Linked DNA regions of Homo sapiens. The protein of the gene in region 3 purifies or fractionates together with the protein of the main gene of each other region. This does not show direct contact. Each region holds a gene or a part of one and is shown on either strand. Other genes may lie near its edges.

Region 1 (4,552 bases), on a different chromosome or scaffold from region 3:
ACTTATATGCAAACTTTTTTCAACCAAACACAAATAAAACATATGGTATTTGAGGGATGCAAAACCCTCAAATACAAGGACCGACTTTTCATATGCATAGGTCCCATGATCTGCAGGGCATTGCTTGGATTTTGGTATCCACAGGGGTCCTGGAACTAGATACCAAGGGAGGACTGCACTCGGTATTGTCGGTCTCTCCAAATCAGTCCTATAAATGTTGTGCAACCCATATCAAAACTTCAAGAGATGTGCTCACCAGCAGTTAACCAATTTTTATAGAACATGAGGAAGGCTTTACCCAAATCTGAGAACATACCAAAGTAATGCATCATTTACTAGGAATATGGAAGAGCTCAGTGAAAGAATTTAACACATAATGAAACAGCATTTCAAATCAGACATATGAGTGGACTTTTCAATAAATGAATTTTGAACAGATATTGGAAGCAGCGCTGTTTCACTCTTCAGAAAAATCAATTCTAAAGATCTACATGTTAACTACTCACACAGAAACATGTCGTAGAGGAAAATACATGACGTGAAATGAGCACATGTAAACATAGGAAAACATACACTGTAAATGTCTTAGAAAATAATTTGCTTTATATCCTGAAATAAGTCATGAAAATTAATCAATTTGATTGTATACAAATATAAAACATTTATTTAAACAGACACCATGTAAAATTAAAGCCAAATGGCTAAGTAGGAGAAAACATTGGCAACAGACATAAAATACAGAAAATACAAGAGAACTCCTAACAAATCCATGAGATAAAAGGACAAATCATTCAATAGAAAAATGAGAGGAAAAAGAAAATTAACAAATGTTTATATGTTCTAAAATAAACATACAAAAATATGTCCATCTTCACTAGTGAGAAATTTCTGATTTAAAACCAAAATAATTTTTTCAGAGTAATTAAATTACAAAAATCCAATAGCAAGTGTCATTAATTACATGGGGAAGCAGATGCTCATATCTTGCTCAGGGGAACTGTAACTTGATACAGCCATTCTGGAACCCAAATGGAAGTATCTCTTCAAATTAAAAATGGTTATACTCTGGCCTGAAATTCAAATCCTAAGCATATACCACAGAGAGAGCCTTATATGTACAAAAAGGGCTCATGTAGGATGATGTTCCTTTCAGCATTGTTTGTAATTATAAAGGAATAAAAAGAAGGAAAACTTCCTTAAGTGTCTATTATAGGCAAAGTACTGTTGGACAGTGCACAAGAGATTAGGTAAATGTGAATGTACCAAAATAAAAAACTCCCAAGTAGAAATAGCAAGTTGTACAATAATATACATACACGTATGTAAAAATCGTAACTATACATTTCCTGTGGCTGTAGATAATATATACACATTCCTACATTAAACACTCATAAAAACACTCTAAAAGAAGATCTAGGAGAGTTAAAACTATTACTTCTACAGAGGATATTGGGACTGAAGATGGTTTTCAAAAAGCACACAAGCAAAATGTAGTCATATATTACATGAGTAATTAAAAAACTGAAAGAGTGTGCACAGATTGATATATTTTAAGGAAAATATAGATAAAATTATATTTTCTATTTCTTTCCCTCCCTTGATGGAAACAGTACATGAAAGGTTCTAGAAGATTACCTGCCAAAATGATGTATTCTATCTAAATATATCTCTGGTAACAATACACTTAAGTCTTTATGCTCACTTTAAAAAGAGAAGAAAATTCGGTTCATGATTTCTGTAAGCAATACAATTTCAGTTCACAGCTCTTATCATTTTGTTTTAGTTATTTACAATCTTTACTAGGTATAGAATTATATATTGGGATTTTGCCATATTCCAATTTAGAATATAGTATTTAGGAAAGAGGAAAATAGTTTTTTAAATTAGAACTTAAGTCATGATTAACATTTCTGTCAGTGGCTTTAATAAGTCAATACACATTTCTAAAAGAAAAACGAAATTGAGTACAATAACCACATTGGCTTATTTCCTTAGTAGTTTATTAATTCTATCTTACATCATTAAATAAAAACATGAATATTAAAAGATATCACTGGTAAATGCCTTTTGAGGACTGCTTCTTTTGGAGATCATTCTACAAAACTCTCTTACCCTAACAACGAACGAGAATGCTACTGGTGTTCATATTCAAACCACTGTGTTTCATGAAAGACCCAACTTTTGAGGGTATAAACTAAGAATAGTTTTTAGAGCGCTATGCTTTAAAGAACTGCTTATTTTTAATTCATGTATTGCAAAAGTCTTGAACCATAAAAAAAACAAAACAATGATGATGAGAAAAAAAGAAAACTCCAGGGCTACCTGGGTTTGCAATGGTTGTGAAAGAAAAGTATACTCAGCATTTTCTTCCCAAATTAAAAGGTCCCCCCCAAAAAAGTGTAGCCAAAAAAAAAAAAAAAAAAACAAAACAAAACAAAATAAAAAAAACCCTGGCTTTGAAATACCCATTCTTGGCTGTGGTAGCAATAAACAATATTGCTAAAAATTGTTTGCAAGGATTTATGGAATTTTTACCTTTTCAGAGGACATTAAACTATTGTTATCTACATGTCTGCAGTGTCAGTAAAAGGCCATCTTCCAATGGAATTTGGAATTTCCCTTACCTATCCTTGGTATCAGTTTAACCATCTACAGCGACTTGCCTTGGGCAAGGAAGGGCCTCCCACATTTCTGATCCATGAACAACTTCCTTTCAGTACATTACAATGGAGAAAGCACTAGGCCACTGTTAGAAAGTTTTAATCTGTCACTGAAATACCAGCAGACTTTAGCCTGATTCCTCTCCTGCAACACAACAGGGCTGTGCTAGAAGATGATTAGTTTATCCTCCAACTCTGAGAGTCAATCATTCATATTTTTATCAAAGGCCACCGAGGAAAAAAGCATTCCTTTTTTCTTCATAACAGCATTTTTATAACTACATCATGTATCAGTTTTATCTGACATTTTCAATTTAATTCAGCAATACTTCACAGTGAACATGCAGCATCTCTTTATATGAAACAGATACTCAAAAAATATAAGCAGGTAATAATTTTTTAAAAATCATATAAAAGTTAATGTGAAGAGACTCAGAAAATAAATCATTTGAGCAGATTCTTTAAGTCTTCAAAACAAAAGGCAGGTGTAATTTATTTTTTTAACTTTTTGTAGAGATGGGATCTTGCTTGCTATGTTGCCCAGGCTGGGCTCAAATTCCTGGCTTCAAGCAATCCTCCCGCTTTGGCCTCTGAAAGTGCTGGAATTACAGGCATTATCCATCATGCCTGGCCGGGAGGTGCGATTTTATTTCAAGAAAGTATTTAGCATTTAAAGTGGAGATATACTGACTAGTCAGTAGTGCTAGCATTTATTTTCTTTTCACATTGACACTTGGAAAATAAGAAATGAGTTCAATTGAACCCATTTAATATGAAAGTCTTTGTTTAGTCACAAATTTATTTTTACAACAAAGCACTTTTGAGATAATTTAAAATACACATGCTTTGATTGAAGAGTGATTGCAAATGGGTCCAGTTTTCTTCCACCTGGGATGACAAATTTGTTATTTCTTCTAGGAGTACTGGCTCTGAAGGAAGCATTTTAAGGTGTAACTGCAAAGAAAAATATGATGATTGAACATTTAAGAAAATTAAAATTTTACCTAATCTGGATTCAATTTTTCTACCAAGGAACCACAAAAGACACTAGGTGAATATTTGTTTTCTTAAGCGCTGGTTTATTACTATCTCCCATTTTCCCCTCCTCTATCAAACTTTTTTTATTATAAGGTCCTTTATGATACTGTGACTTCCTTGGTAGAATTAAAGTGGTCATCACTCCTCTCCACCTAAGGACAGTCCTGATACTTTTAAATAATCAGATCAAGTGAACTCATTTTAGGTATAAATGGGATAAAGAATCAAATCTATTATCACCAAAAATCGGCATCATCTACCTCCTTCAACACATTATACCACTAAAGTAGACCCTCAAAACATGAGTTCACCACTATATTAATCATAAAAGTAACAGTCTTATTGTCAAATGATCAAAACTCCTTTAATAATGATAGAAGTGAACATTTTGATTTCAGTAGTAGAAAAAAAAACAAACAAACCCAACTTTCTATTCATAATCACAAAAAACTTCCAAAATGTAACTAACCACTAAAAAAAGAAAAGTTAATGGTTCAGCACATTGGATCAAGCAGATAGCATAAAAATGTCAGGGGGTAAAGTCAAAATTATTGTGCAGTTGAGTAAAAAAACAAAACAAGACTCCCAAGCTGCACTGTCTAGCTGTCCAATGTGGTAGTCACTAGCCACATGCGGTTATTTAAATTTAAATTAATTAAAATTCTATAAAATTAAAAATCCAGTTTCTTGATCACACTATTTACATTTCAAGAACTCAATAGCTACATGTGGCAAGTGGCTATGATACTGGAAAGGATGGATATACAGCATACCCATCTTTGCAGAAAGTTCTGTTAGATAGCACTGCCCCAGAAGAAGACAAGCTGGGCAGTACTGTCTTACATTAGACTTAC
Region 2 (3,296 bases), on a different chromosome or scaffold from region 3:
TTCCCTAAAGTTCTCCTCCCTTCACCCCAGGGGGAAAAGAAAAAAATCAAAATAACCCACTGGGCTTCGTTAAAAAAAAAAAAAAAGTCCTTTACTGAGATTTGGTTGGTTCGTTGCTTCTCTAGAGTGCAAGGGGCTGTCTGCACATCAGCACGGACTTCATCTCTCAGCAAGGGGTCTCTGCCCTTCAGTGCGTGAGAATGAGGCCCGTCAACTGCTAAGGCTGTGGCAAACATGAGGATGTTTTGGTTTCCAAAAAAACATTCTACAAGCCCACTCGGGGGAAACGCTTTTAGGCTGCAACATTCTATTAAATGTCCAAATTCTGTGTGACTCTAAATATGGGAACCAGGCTTATGATATAGAGACATGAGTAAGTTTGGGAAATTTTAAAAAGAGGCATGATTAAACATACACAAAAATTAGAATATGTACAGTGGAATTAGGCTAAAGCTTTGCCTAATTGGTGCCTGAAATGTATAATCTGTCAAGAGCCATAATAGAAGAGAAAGAGATTTATTTTAAGGTTATTTAAATTTAAACAATATTAACCTTAAATCTGCTAAATCCATGTTTCTTTATTAACTGGGGTAATATAGTGATTCTACTTAGAAACAGACCCACATAGCATCTATGGCAAGAAACCCTCACCATAAGAGTTAGCAGATTAAGTGTGTAAGTTTTGATCTTGGAATTATCGTCACTCACACGTTGCATGATTCTAGCACTTCTCTTTCCCCCCAGGGATGCCGAACTCTGCCAATTCGCCCTTTAGTGGAATGAGTACTGGGGGAGAAAAAGTAAGGTTTCTCTTTGATCATCCCCAATCACTGGCATTAATCCTGTTTTTCACACAGCTGGGTTTTGTCTATAAAGTTTGATCCCTCCTTTTCTCATCCAAATCATGTGAACCATTACACATCGAAATAAAAGAAAGGTGGCAGACTTGCCCAACGCCAGGCTGACATGTGCTGCAGGGTTGTTGTTTTTTAATTATTATTGTTAGAAACGTCACCCACAGTCCCTGTTAATTTGTATGTGACAGCCAACTCTGAGAAGGTCCTATTTTTCCACCTGCAGAGGATCCAGTCTCACTAGGCTCCTCCTTGCCCTCACACTGGAGTCTCCGCCAGTGTGGGTGCCCACTGACATTCACCTGTGTCTAGAACGGAGGCAAGGATGCTGACCCCCCGTGGTCCCTGCAGGAAGGCCCACCTTGCCAACTCTCACCACCCTCTCGTGGCCACTCAGACCTTCCAAGGATCTGGGGGGATCTACTGAAGTGGTGCCTCAACACTGGTCCTGGGGAGACCACAGAGGGCGGCACAGTCACTGCAGAGGAGAAGGAAACTGAGAAGGCAAGACACAGTGGAGAGGACAGGAGCGGTGCCCACAGGTGTGGAGGCCTCCAACCCTTTCTCTTCTGGACCCCTCTGCAAGTGCCCAAATCTTACATTTATTGGGAAATCAATATGCTCCAGGGGGCCTCTTTCAAACCTCCCAGAAAACACAATGCAGGGGCAGGGCGGGGTGGGTCGGGGGCGGGGGGCGGGCAGCTGTGGCCTGGGTCACAATACAAAGACCCCCAGACCTTTCTTGAAGACAAGACAGGATTCGATAGGGAAAAAAAGCTTGGGATACTGGTGCCTTTTGACTTCAAAGGCAAATAATAAAAAGCCAACAGTAAATCAATTAGCCCTGAGAGAGTGAGTTTTCAGTGGACATGAAAGAGGGAGCAATGCATGTAAATGCAACCTCGTGTTTCCAGAAGAAAATAAGAGGGACCACGAGCCTGAGAACACATTCGTATTTTTTGACCCAGACCAAAAACTTTTGGTCCTTTTTAACGGTACATTCCTACATTAAGAAAATAATTAGTGATAAATATATTCTCTTTTTGTACAAATTCAATTCCAGTTTTTAACACCCTAATTCACAAAATTCATGCCAATGTATGCGCTGATAGGCTGAAGCCAAGCTGTGAAACTTCAGAACACAGTTAAGGGCAGCAATCAAGCCCGTTCCAGGCTGACGCGCAGGGCGTTCTTACATCACATCCCGGGGTGCCAGCTCAACCCCGGCACGTCAGCACCTGGGTGAAGGGAGTGCCGGGCACTGATGGGATCAATACAAGACACAGACCCCTTCCGTCGGGAGCTGGCTAGTCTCTACAGTGCCCCACACCACTGATTTCTATCAGGCTCCAGGGCCTCCCATGGAGGAGAAGGGCTGTGGCCCCTCTGATTCTTGGGGACGTGGTATTCAGGCAAAGGCGCAGTTATTTTTCACAAGCCTCCTCTGACAAGAACTGGACATCAATCCACTGCCACCCGGGGCTTCCAGGTTCCACTCGAAGACCCAGAGAGATTTTAAACTTTCTGGGAAGTCTTGCTGTCCCGCTGTACACCTTTTTGGGTTTTTCTCCATTTTAATGTTTTCCCACGGCCAAAGCAGGGTGTCGGCTGCAGACTGTGCTGCAGGGGCCGGCCACCAGGCTCTCCAGGTGCGTTTTGCTTTTTGACCTTGGCGATGTCGGCCTCCATGCCGCTTGAGTATTCCGAACGTAGGATTTCAGCGAGGCTGTGTTTACTCTGGGTCTTCTTATGAAGGTCAGGCCTGAAGAACAGTAACAGCAGAGAGGGAAAAGAAACTTTATTATTTTTCTTTCCCATTTGGAAAGAGGCTGATAGCAGCTGGTTCTGAGACTGTGAAGCTGACATTTTTGTATTAACAGAAGTACAATCCCTTCAATAGTACTTGTTTTGATATTCGATGCACCAGAAGATTAGATACGGCGCTGACAGATTTTCATAACAGCGGCAAAATATCATGGCATTTTTAAAAGTGAGGCTTTGTTCTGTGTTGTTTTCATGGGGAAAAAAAGAACTATACACCCTCATGCTCTGATGGCAAATGAGGTGTATGATACAGCGGTTTGCCAAAGGACAGGGAAAAACCCACCGTCACACTCAACAACATGAAGCAGTGAAAGCTCACGGCAGCTTCCCAGTAACCCCTAAGCAGCTTAAAGCAACTGGCCTCCTCATGGGCTCCTGAGGGCTTCAGGACTCAGCCCTGCGGGAGCAGAGTCCAGCAAGTTCCACGCAGCCCTCCAGGGTTCCACAGTGAAGGCTGGGATGACAGCCAGATAGCTCTTTATGAACGGAAAAAACTCTTAAACATATTTCTGACCCTACAAAACCCAAACCCAGGGCACAGCCTGGTCAATGTCTGCATCTAGGATTAGACCAGCAGCTTTCTGCAGCCCACACAAACCCGGGTGTTAGAGGGAGGTC
Region 3 (5,604 bases):
TAAAGATGAAGAAAGACACCACAGTGGGAGAAACCAACAGATTTGATTTTAAAAATATGAAATGCTTTTATACAGAAAAAATAAAGTAAAATAAAGAAACAAAAAGCAAATCTGGGAAGAATATTTGCCACAAATATTTACACACACACATTTGCTTCTGTAAAGTCTTTAAAGCATACTCAGATTCCTGTAGACTGCTAAAGCACAAGATGGATCATTTCCCTGCCCACAGAAATGGCTAGTAAACATTTTCTAAGACTTGAACTTCACTAATAATACAAACAATGCTACTCAGAAATAAATCACGTGGCACCATTTGTCCCCTATCAGGCTCATCATGGTTTATAGCATTTGTCATTTATATCCATTTATCATTTATTATCATGGTGCAATATTGCACCAATCTAAATATATCCAACATGCAGAATAAATGCCTGACAACAGCCATATAAATCATCAGAGACCCGCTCAGACATGCTGGTGGGAATACATACCGCCGTAACTGATGTGGAAATAATATCAAAATACCTCAAAAATACCCAACCCAATCTTCCTCTTCAAGGAATCACTCCTAAAGAAATCATATAAGACACAAAGAAAGATTTGTGCCCAGTGTCCCTCATGACACTGTTTATAACCAAAAAAAGAATACTTGGAAACCAATAAAGGTCCAACAACAGAGGAACCATTAAGTAAACCAGGGTATGGCCACTGAACAACACTTTTATGGGGTCATTAAGATGGACGTTACAAAGGAGTTTTTAATGATGTGGAGAAATGCTCAGGATGAAATCTCTGATGAAAAAGCAATCTTTAACATTAAAATTGCTTAGCCAGACTCAAACATTCCAGAGTGATTATCTTTTGGGGTAAAATCATGGGTGAATTTGTGGGCCTCATTCCCATAAGCTTTTGTACTTTCATCACACATGTGGGCATTCACATTCACAAGAAGCATTTAGTGTGTTTGCCCATTTTAAAGGTCACACATCCAGCATGGTCCTGCGCAAGTTTTCACTCAATGTCACATGTCTAAACCACCACTTCCCACAGGTGCCCACCTGTGTCTCCTAAGAGTCCAGAGAGCTAGTTTGGCCATTCCAAAGCTTCCCTGTCCCCTACAACTGACCCCACAGCCAGGGTCAGCATCATCTATAAGCACAGCCCTCTTCATCAGGGCAGACACAGCCCCAGAAGATGGGACTGGGGGCCTTGGAGAGGGTTCGAGCAGCAGAGGCTCACCCAAGGCAGGATCCAGCCTTTGGAAAGGAGAGTGACAGGGCAACATGACTCACCAGTGCCTCATCAGTCAGCAGCTGAGCAGCCATCCCTCTGCTGCCCACGGTGAATAGGAAGACAGGCCTGCGGTGACCAACAGTGCTGTAGGGAGAAGAAAGAGGGAGGCATGCTGAGAGACCAGGCCTAGGCTGGCCTCACAAATGTAGACAGGACAGACACACACCCACTGAGAGACAAGCAGAGACAGACAGATAGACACACATACACATACATCAACAGTGAGTATTTAGAGGGCTTACTGCATGTAGGGAACTTGAATGTATATCACTTGATCTTCCAACCATCCTGGAAGGTAGGTACTACTTCTACCTACCCATTTCACAGATGAGGAGGCTGAGGCCCGAGGAGATTAAACCACTTGCTCAAGATTACAGAGCTGGGACTGGAGTCAGGCAGAGTATGTCTGGGTCCACAGCTTAGCCTCCAGGCTACAATGCCTCACAGATGCACTCCCATGTACACTCCTATAGATATGGTTAACACACATACACTCACACACATTCCCGCAGGCTGCTGAGGGCCACCGGACACCCTGCCTTCTCCCAATGGCCCTGCCCGGATCCCTCCTTGAGTGTGAGTGCTGGACTGAGGCCCCCTGAGATGCCCCAGAACCACCTGTGGCCTCTTTGGGCACTTCCCCCAGACTTCATGGGGTTACCATGAGGTTCAACTAGCAGATATGAGTGTAAGGAACTTCCACCCAGGGGCTCTCAGAGCCAGATTCGCCTAGAGAAATGCATCTTGATTCAATTCTCCTCCAGTTCTCCTGACAAGCTCAGGATAAAGTCTCAAGTGGAGAGATATCTTAACATCCCTGCAACCCATCACTCGCCCCTTGAAACAAAAGAAAAGCAGGAGAATAAGATCCTGTGATTTGCAACAACATGGATAAAACTGGAGGTCATTATGTTAAGTGAAATAAGCCAGGCATAGAAAGACAAACTTTGCAAGTTCTCACTTGTGTGAGCTAAAAATTAAAACAAACTCATGGAGATAGAGACTAGAATGATGAAGAAACCTGAGGCTGGGAAGGGTAGTGGAAGGGTGGGGGGAATGTGGGGATGGCTAATTGGTATTAAAAAAATACAGAGGGCCGGGCGCGGTGGCTCACGCCTGTAATCCCAGCACTTTGGGAGGCCGAGGCGGGTGGATCATGAGGTCAGGAGATCGAGACCATCCTGGCTAACAAGGTGAAACCCCGTCTCTACTAAAAATACAAAAAATTAGCCGGGCGCGGTGGCGGGCGCCTGTAGTCCCAGCTACTCGGGAGGCTGAGGCAGGAGAATGGCGTGAACCCGGGAAGCGGAGCTTGCAGTGAGCCGAGATTGCGCCACTGCAGTCCGCAGTCCGACCTGGGCGACAGAGCGAGACTCCGTCTCAAAAAAAAAAAAAAAAAAAAAAATACAGAGGGTTGCAGTGAGCCAAGATTGCACCACTGCACTCCAGCCTGGCAACAGAGCGAGACTCCATCTCAAAAAAAAAAAAAAAAAACAAACCCCAAAAAAACAAAAAAACACACACACAAAGAATGAATAAGACCTACTATTTGACAGCACAACAGGGTGACTATGATCAATAATAATTTAATGATACATTTAAAAATAACTGGCCGGGCGCAGTGGCTCATGCCTGTAATCCCAGCACTTTGGGAGGCCGAGGCGGGCGGATCACGAGGTCAGGAGATCAAGACCACGGTGAAACCCCGTCTCTACCAAAAATACAAAAAATTAGCCGGGTGTGGTGGCAGGTGCCTGTAATCCCAGCTACTCGGGAGGCTGAGGAAGGAGAATGGCATGAACCCAGGAGGCGGAGCTTGCAGTGAGCTGAGATGGCAACACTGCACTCCAGCCTGGGTGACAGAGCGAGACTCCATCTCAAAAAAAAAAAAAAACAAAACACTAAAAATGTAATCAGATTGTTTGTAACACAAAGGATAAATCCTTGAGGTGACAGATACCCCATTTATCCTGATGTGATTATTACACATTGTATGCCCGTATCAAAATATCTCATGTACTCCATAAATATATAAACCCACTACACACCCAGAAAAATTAAAAATTAAAATTAAAAAGAAAAGCAGGGTTCAGGCCCCAAAGTTAGGGTGACCATAATATCTCATTAGAACTACCTGGCTTTACTTCAATTTGTTTTAAAGTTTGTTTCCCTTCTTACAGCAAAACTCAGCTTCTTTTACAGCAGTCACACAGAATACCCTTTTAAACTAAGTTGATTTAAATTAAAAACAAAAAAAAAATCAGTGAGCCAAATCAAGTAAATGGCAAAGTAAAAAAATAGGATCCATGACACAGATGAGGACAAATTCTTGGAGTCTGAGACATGCTGGCTCAGTCCTGGCTTCTCCCGTGATGGGGGCTCACTACCCGTGCCACCAACACCTCTGACTGGAAATGAGTTTTTCTTCTGCTATAAACAGAAACATGCCTCTCTACATCTCCAACCCTTCAAGATCACCCAGAAAAGCCTCAATCCTCTCCAACACAATGCTCTTGTAGCTGGTGCACCAATTCTCAAAGTACCAGAATCACTGGGGATGCTTATTAAAATCTCACTCAGAATATATATTCCTGCCCCCCACCTCAGATCCTCTGAATCAAACTACCTGGGTAGGGCCCCTGAATCGGTATTTCTAAGCAAGTTTCCCAGGTGATTCTGACACGTCTTAAAGCGTAAGAACCACTAAGACAAAGAAGAGCCTTTCTTAGGCCAAATGGCCCCAACTTCCACAAGTGAAAAGTAATTTTAATTGTAGGGGGGCATATATATAAGGCCAAGTTGGCAGAAGCCTTTGGAACTCAATCGGGAACAATTCTGCCCCCGGAGACATTTGTCAACGTCTAGAGACATTTGCCAAACTGTCATAATTTGGCAGGGGAGTGCTATGGGCGTTTAGTTGGTAGAGACTGGGGATGCTGCTACACACTGTACGATGCACGCGACAGGCCCCACAACAAAGAATGATCAGGCCCAAAGGTCAGTAGTGTGGAGGTTGAGAAGCCCTGTTGTAGAACAAAAGGATCACAAAGGTGTGGGCTGGGGGTTCCTACCACTTAATGCCTGTACCCGGGCACCACACCTGGCCAACTGTAATCACTCAGTGAAAATGTCCTCTGGGCTAAAACTCTTCAAAACTCTTCGTTGGCTTCCCCCACCATTAGAAATCACTCAAAGTCTTCACTGCTGCCCACATAGCCCTTATGATGTGCCCCTGATGGCCTCTCCCCTTCCATCTCCTCTACTCCCCTCTCCCATGCTTGGCCCCAGGCCTCCTGGCCTCTGCATCTGCTGTTCCCTCTGGAGGGAATGCTCTTCCCATGACTACCCCTGCTTCCTGGTCAGCTCCAACGTCACCTCCTTGGAGAAGTCCTCTACCCCCAATCACCTGACCTCAAGCAGCAACTCTCTCCCCCTCTATTTTCTTGCAGTACAAACCACTATTGACAACTGTCTTTTTTAAAATAGTTGTTTTCAAGTTTGTCATCTGTCTTCCCTCCATGAGAACAGAAGCCCCCAGGGAGCAGGGATGATCACTTTCAGATTGTATTTCCGACATCTAGGACAACGTCTAACACACAGGAGGCACTTAGACATCAAGCTGAATGAACAGATGAGCTAACTTCTAGTGCTGGCCAGGATTGAAAGGAACAGGCCCTCTCACACACTGGTGAGGGAATGTGAGTCGCTCAACATTTTTCTGGAAAGTGAGCTGGCAATACACAAATCCCATAACCCAGCAACCCTGTTCCTGGGAATCTGCCCACACCAATAAAAGCTCCGTGTAAAAGTTACATATAGGAAAAAAAGATATTTATGGCAGCATTGTTTCTAGAGGCAAAAAAAAACCCTGAAAACAAAATTAATAAACATTACTAAAGGAATCAAATCGAGGGTAGGGTCTCCATAGTATGAAGTATCAGGTCGCCTCTGCGAAGCAGAGTTAGTTCTGCATCTGTTGACATGTCTGTGGTTTCACTAAGTGAGAAAAGCAAGTTACCCAGTTTTATGCATACCTTTAGCCCCTTTGTGAAAAAACAAACCAAAACATGTGGATGTGGACACATCTGTACAGCATCTTCCAGCCTGGGGAAGGCTGTGGAATGAGGCTGGGTTGGTGTCTGGAGGGCATGGAGTGGGAATGAGAAGGGGGTAGAAGTTATTAATTATTTTTTCTTTCTCTTCCTTTGAATTGTTTCCCTGGGTGTAGAAACTTCATATTACCATCAACATTTTTGAAACACAATTTAATATAAAAAAAAATTCCTTGCAGATAGTGGTCTCTTTCAC
Region 4 (5,102 bases), on a different chromosome or scaffold from region 3:
ATACAGGCTTAATTGTGGTACATTTAAATGTTGTCTCCACCGCAATGTGAGGACGGATTATACGGTTGCTTTTTTTTTTTTTAGATTTTTGTTTGTTTGTTTTTTGTTTTGAGATGGAGTCTCACTCTGTCTCCCAGGCTGGAGGGCAGTGGCGCGATCTCGGCCCACTGCAACCTCTGCCTTCTGGGTTCAACTGATTCTCCTGCCTCAGCCTCCCGAGTAGCTGGGATTTCAGGCACGTGCCACCACACCCGGCTAATTTTTGTAGTTTTAGTAGAGACCAGGTCTCACCATGTTGGCCAGGTTGGTCTCGAACTCCTCACTGTCATGCGTGTCTGTATAGAAAACCACCTAAACAGGCTTTGTGTAAGCAATAACGCCATTTATTCACTTGGGTGCAAGTGGGCTGAGTCTGAAAAGAGAGTCAGCGAAGGGAGATAAGAGAGGGGCAGCTTTATAGGACTTGGGTAGGTGGTGGAAAGTTACAGTCGAAGGTGGTCATCTGTTGTCAGCAGGGGAGGGGGTCACCAGGTGCATGGTGGGAGACCATGAGACCCATTGTCCAGAAGAAGAATGTCATAAGGTCGATTGATCAGTTAGGGTAGGGCAGGAACAAGTCCTAATGGTGGAATGTCTTAAGGTTGGTTAATCAGTTAAGGGAGAAACTGGCTGTTTCACTTCTTTTGTGTTTTTTTGGCTGCTCCAGACTTCTTGGCTGCTGCAGGCCATCTGGATGTATATGTGCAGTTCACAGGGGTCACAATGGCTTAGCTCCGGCTCAGAGGCCTGACACTGACCTCAGATGATCCACCTGCCTCGGCCTCCCAAAATGCTGGGATTACAGGCGTGAGCCACTGTGCCTGCCTGGGATCATATGTTACACGCATGTTTGTTCAATAAGCATGGAGTGCAGCCACCCACATGAATATTCATAGCTCCTCCTATAGCCTGTTGAATATGTATGTTTAGCCAACCCCTTCAGCATAAAGCTCCTGCCCCAACCCCTCCTGCTTCTAAATGTCTGTCTCTGGTGTTTCCCAGAGGCTGCTCTTCCCAGGCTGCGGGATGGCTACCTTGCTGCCTGTCACCCTTAACAAGAAATAAAATCTCCTTTCCAAATTTATACATTGTGGCCAGGCGCGGTGGCTCACACCTGTAATCCCGGCACTTTGGTACGCCAAGGCGGGCGGATCTCCTCAGATCGGGAGTTCGAGATCAGCTGACCAACATGGAGAAACCCTGTCTCTACTAAAAATACAAAAATTAGCCAGGCATAGTGGTGGGCGGCTGTAAGCCTGACCAACATGGAGAAACACTGTCTCTACTAAGAATACAAAAATTAGCCTAGGCGTAGGGGTGGGTGCCTGTAATCGCAGTTACATGGGAGGCTGAGGCAGGAGAATCTTTTGAACCTGGGAGGCAAAGGTTGCGGTGAGCTGAGATTACGCCACTGTACTCCAGCCTGGGTAACAGAGCAAGTCTCCGTCTCAAAACAAACAAACAAACAAAAAAACACAAAAAAACAAAAGCAAACAAAAAAACCAAATGCATCCCTTGTGTAATTTTTAGGTCACCGCGCCATGGGAACACGCTACCAGGGGAAGGGAGCTGTGAGACGCGCAGGGAGGCTCCAGACAGGCTGGCCTGGGACACCAGCCACTGCTCTTCCATGACATGGGGACAAGAGGAGGCGAGAGCTCAGCCCACCAGGGAGGAACTCCGGGCAGGAGATGGGGAAGAAGGAGAAGCAGGAAGGAAAGAGCTCAGTGTGGGGGCGCGCATGGCATCCCGGTGGGACATCTGAGGCCCACACCCACCTGCTGTCCCTCCCTCCCACGGTGGCCTCCGAGGGTGAAGGCCTGGGGAGAGGCAGACACCTGGCCCTTTACTCTCCCTCCCTGTCCCCATGGCCGCTGGGTGGGGGCCGTCTCTGGGATGATCCCCGAGGGCAGGATCCGGGAGTCCCTGCGGAGGCATCAGCCTGTCTGTCTTGATGGTGGAGAGGAGGCTCCAGCTGGGCGGGACCACCAGGGGAGGGGCTTGTGCTCTGCTGGCTCAGCCTGGTGTGGACCCACCTCGCGGGCGCTGGCTGCAATGACTTTCTCTTTCCCTTTGCAATTGCCTTGGGTCCTGCCGCACAGAGCGGCCTGTCTTTATCAGAGGTCCCTCTGCCAGGGGGAGGGCCCCAGAGAAAACCAGAAAGAGGGTGAGAGACTGAGGAAGATAAAGCGTCCCAGGGCCTCCTACACCAGCGCCTGAGCAGGAAGGGGGAGGGGCCATGACTACGAGGCCCTGGGAGGTCACTTTAGGGAGGGCTGTCCTGAAACCTGGAGCCTGGAGCAGAAAGTGAAACCCTGGTGCTCCAGACAAAGATCTTAGTCGGGACTAGCCGGCCAAGGATGAAGCCTCACTTCAGGTACCGCTGCCCGCTCTACCCGCTGGGCCCCTCTGCTGCCCCTTCCTGCCTGGTGGCTCTGCTGGGCGTCAGCCCTGGCCTCCCCCTGCCCCAGCCCCAGCCCTGGGCTCCCTCCCCTCTGGCTCCCCTGCCCCCGCCACTCCCAGCCAGGCTCTTTTTCCTGCTCTGTGGTTGCCCCACTGCTGCTTCTGAATAGGCCGCTTCCCCACCTGCCCCAGCCCAGGTGCCCTGCTGAGACTCTCCCCCGCCACCGAAAGTCATGGCAGGGCTGGTGCTCCCGGCCCTGGGAGGGTGCTCCCTCTGTGTTCTTTCCGCCATTCCTGAACTCTGGAACTGGGAGAATTGAACCAAAGGATGATTAGAGCAATGTGGAATTTTGTTCACAGTGCTTTGATGGATTTTCTGTAACATTTACTTTGCTTAAATAGCAAGTCTTAGGAGAGGGTGTGGGGAGGGAATGGTCTCTGAAGCACAAGATAAATCGTATCTTCCAAGGATGTCTCCACTGTGGGCAGAGGAGGATGCAGATGACCCCAAACACACGCTCCTCCTCCACTATCAGCATTCACTGTTTATAAATGACACGAGTAACATGGAATATAGTGGCCGGGTGCGGTGGCTCACACCTGTCATCCCAGCACTTTGGTAGGCTGAGGTGGGTGGATTGCCTGAGGTCGGGAGTTCGAGACCATCCTGATCAACATGGATAAACCCTGTCTCTACTAAAAATACAAAATTAGCCGGGTGTGGTGGCGGGCGCCTATAATCCAGCTACTCCACAGGCTGAGACAGGAGAATCGCTTGAACCCAGGAGGCGGAGGTTGCAGTGAGCCGAGATCGCCCCATCGCACTCCAGCCTGGGCAACAAGAGCCAAATTTCGTCTCAAAAGAAAAAAAAACAAAAACAAAAAACATGGAATATATGGGAAAAAAACTCAATGATCAGGAGAAATGCTATTATTTTAAAATTTAGTAAGAAGAGAGTCTGGTCCCCAATGGCTCCCTCCTGCAAGGCTGGTGACACAGAGACTGGACAGGGCTGGTCTGGTAAGAGGCCCCAGCCCCATCCGTCCCCAGCTCTGTGGCCTGGGCAGGTTACCCCATCTCTCTGCGCCTCTGGCACCTCCTCTGTAAGATGGGAATGGCCCGTGCGGGCCTAGGGCAGCCTCACATGAGCTCACATCCGCGCAGCACTTAGAAGAGTGGCCTGGGCCTCAGAATTCGGTTCTACCATGATTTAACAATAGTAATATACAGAGGTGAAATGTCAGAAGGAACTGGCTGAAAGGTTAAAATCTATTATTTTGGGGTGAATAGTTTTATTCTCTCTCTCTTTTTTTTTTTTTTTTTTGAGATGGAGTTTCGCTCTTGTAGCCCAGGCTGGAGTGCAGTGGCACGATCTCGGCTCACTACAACCTCCGCCTCCCAGGTTCAAGCGATTCTCCTGCCTCAGCCTCCACAGTGGCTGGGATTACAGGCACCCACTACCACGCTTGGCTAATTTTTATATTTTTAGTAGAGACTGGGTTTCACCATGTTGGTGAGACTGGTCTCAAACTCCTGACCTCAAGTGATGGGCCTACCTCGGCCTCCCAAAGTGCTGGGATTACAGGCATGAGCCATAATGTCCAGCCAAGAACTTTGTTCTCTTTTGCATTTTACTAATGCGTTGGAGAATGGGTGGGAGAAATACTGGGAAGGTGGGGAATGTACTCCTGGAACGACCAGAGCTGGACCCTGAGCTGGAAGAGGTCAGCCTGCCCCTGCTGCCCATGCCAGCATCCCCTTTTCTTGCTCTCTCCCCGGTCTTCCTGCCTGGGAAGGAAGCAAAAATTCTCAGGGCTGTGGAGGGGTTGGGGAGGCCCAGAGCCATGCAGGGGGCTGTGTTTAGTGGACATCAGCCCTGAGGGCTCCCGGGAGCGCTCTCTACATTGGCTGGTTTCTCTCTTGTGTCTTCAGAAACACAGTGGAGCGAATGTATCGAGACACATTCTCCTACAACTTTTATAATAGACCCATCCTTTCTCGTCGGAATACCGTCTGGCTGTGCTACGAAGTGAAAACAAAGGGTCCCTCAAGGCCCCGTTTGGACGCAAAGATCTTTCGAGGCCAGGTACCACCCGGACTTCAATCACTTTGCAGGCAGGAGCTAAGCCAGCTGGGAAAGCAAACCACGCACTGATAAGTGAAGTGCCCGGCGGCGGGCTATCCAGTGTGTCCTTCTCTCCCACACTTTCCAAGTCCGTGGCCCTGACCTTCCTGCTGGACCGTCCTGGGATCGGATCGTGGAGGGGGTTTGCCTTTGCACAAAAGGCCTTGTGTTTTTTTTTTTTTTTTTTTGAGACAGAGTTTCACTCTTGTTGCTCAGGCTGGAGTGCAATGACGCGATCTCGGCTCACAGCAACCTCTGCCTCCTGGGTTCAAGCGATGCTGTCGCCTAAGACTCCCGAGTAGCTGGGATTACAGGTGCCCACCACCACGCCCAGCTAATTTTTTTTTTTTTTGTATTTTTAGTAGAGACAGGATTTTACCATATTCACCAGGCTGGTCTCGAACTTCTGACCTCAGGTGATCCACCTGCCTCGGCCTCCCAAAGTGTTGGGATTACAGGTGTGAGCCACAGCGCCGGCCTAATTTTAATATTTAATTAATCCAATGTGGCTAACATATTACTTCAACATTAATT

The links.
Region 1: the proteins of ZNF71 (region 3) and WDR36 purify together in Homo sapiens (affinity purification with mass spectrometry; 2 studies listed by BioGRID and IntAct, with this or other methods). This does not show direct contact.
Region 2: the proteins of ZNF71 (region 3) and DDX31 purify together in Homo sapiens (affinity purification with mass spectrometry; 2 studies listed by BioGRID and IntAct, with this or other methods). This does not show direct contact.
Region 4: the proteins of ZNF71 (region 3) and APOBEC3F purify together in Homo sapiens (affinity purification with mass spectrometry; one large-scale study listed by BioGRID and IntAct). This does not show direct contact.

The regions. Positions count from the first base shown.
Region 1 is NC_000005.10:111,125,796-111,130,347, reverse strand, and holds part of WDR36 (WD repeat-containing protein 36), read right to left. Parts: intron 3,615-4,552; coding exon 3,465-3,614; 3' UTR 1-3,464. UniProt on the Homo sapiens protein: Part of the small subunit (SSU) processome, first precursor of the small eukaryotic ribosomal subunit.
Region 2 is NC_000009.12:132,592,497-132,595,792, forward strand, and holds the end of DDX31 (ATP-dependent DNA helicase DDX31), read right to left. Parts: exon of another isoform or gene 2,647-3,296; intron 2,617-2,646; coding exon 2,370-2,616; 3' UTR 501-2,369; downstream 1-500. UniProt on the Homo sapiens protein: May have DNA helicase activity and RNA helicase activity. Probably have ssDNA and RNA dependent ATPase activity. Plays a role in ribosome biogenesis and TP53/p53 regulation through its interaction with NPM1.
Region 3 is NC_000019.10:56,597,283-56,602,886, reverse strand, and holds part of ZNF71 (endothelial zinc finger protein induced by tumor necrosis factor alpha), read right to left. Parts: intron 1,381-5,604; 5' UTR 1,329-1,380; coding exon 1,296-1,328; intron 1-1,295. UniProt on the Homo sapiens protein: May be involved in transcriptional regulation.
Region 4 is NC_000022.11:39,038,562-39,043,663, forward strand, and holds the start of APOBEC3F (DNA dC->dU-editing enzyme APOBEC-3F), read left to right. Parts: upstream 1-2,302; 5' UTR 2,303-2,399; coding exon 2,400-2,416; intron 2,417-4,375; coding exon 4,376-4,529; intron 4,530-5,102.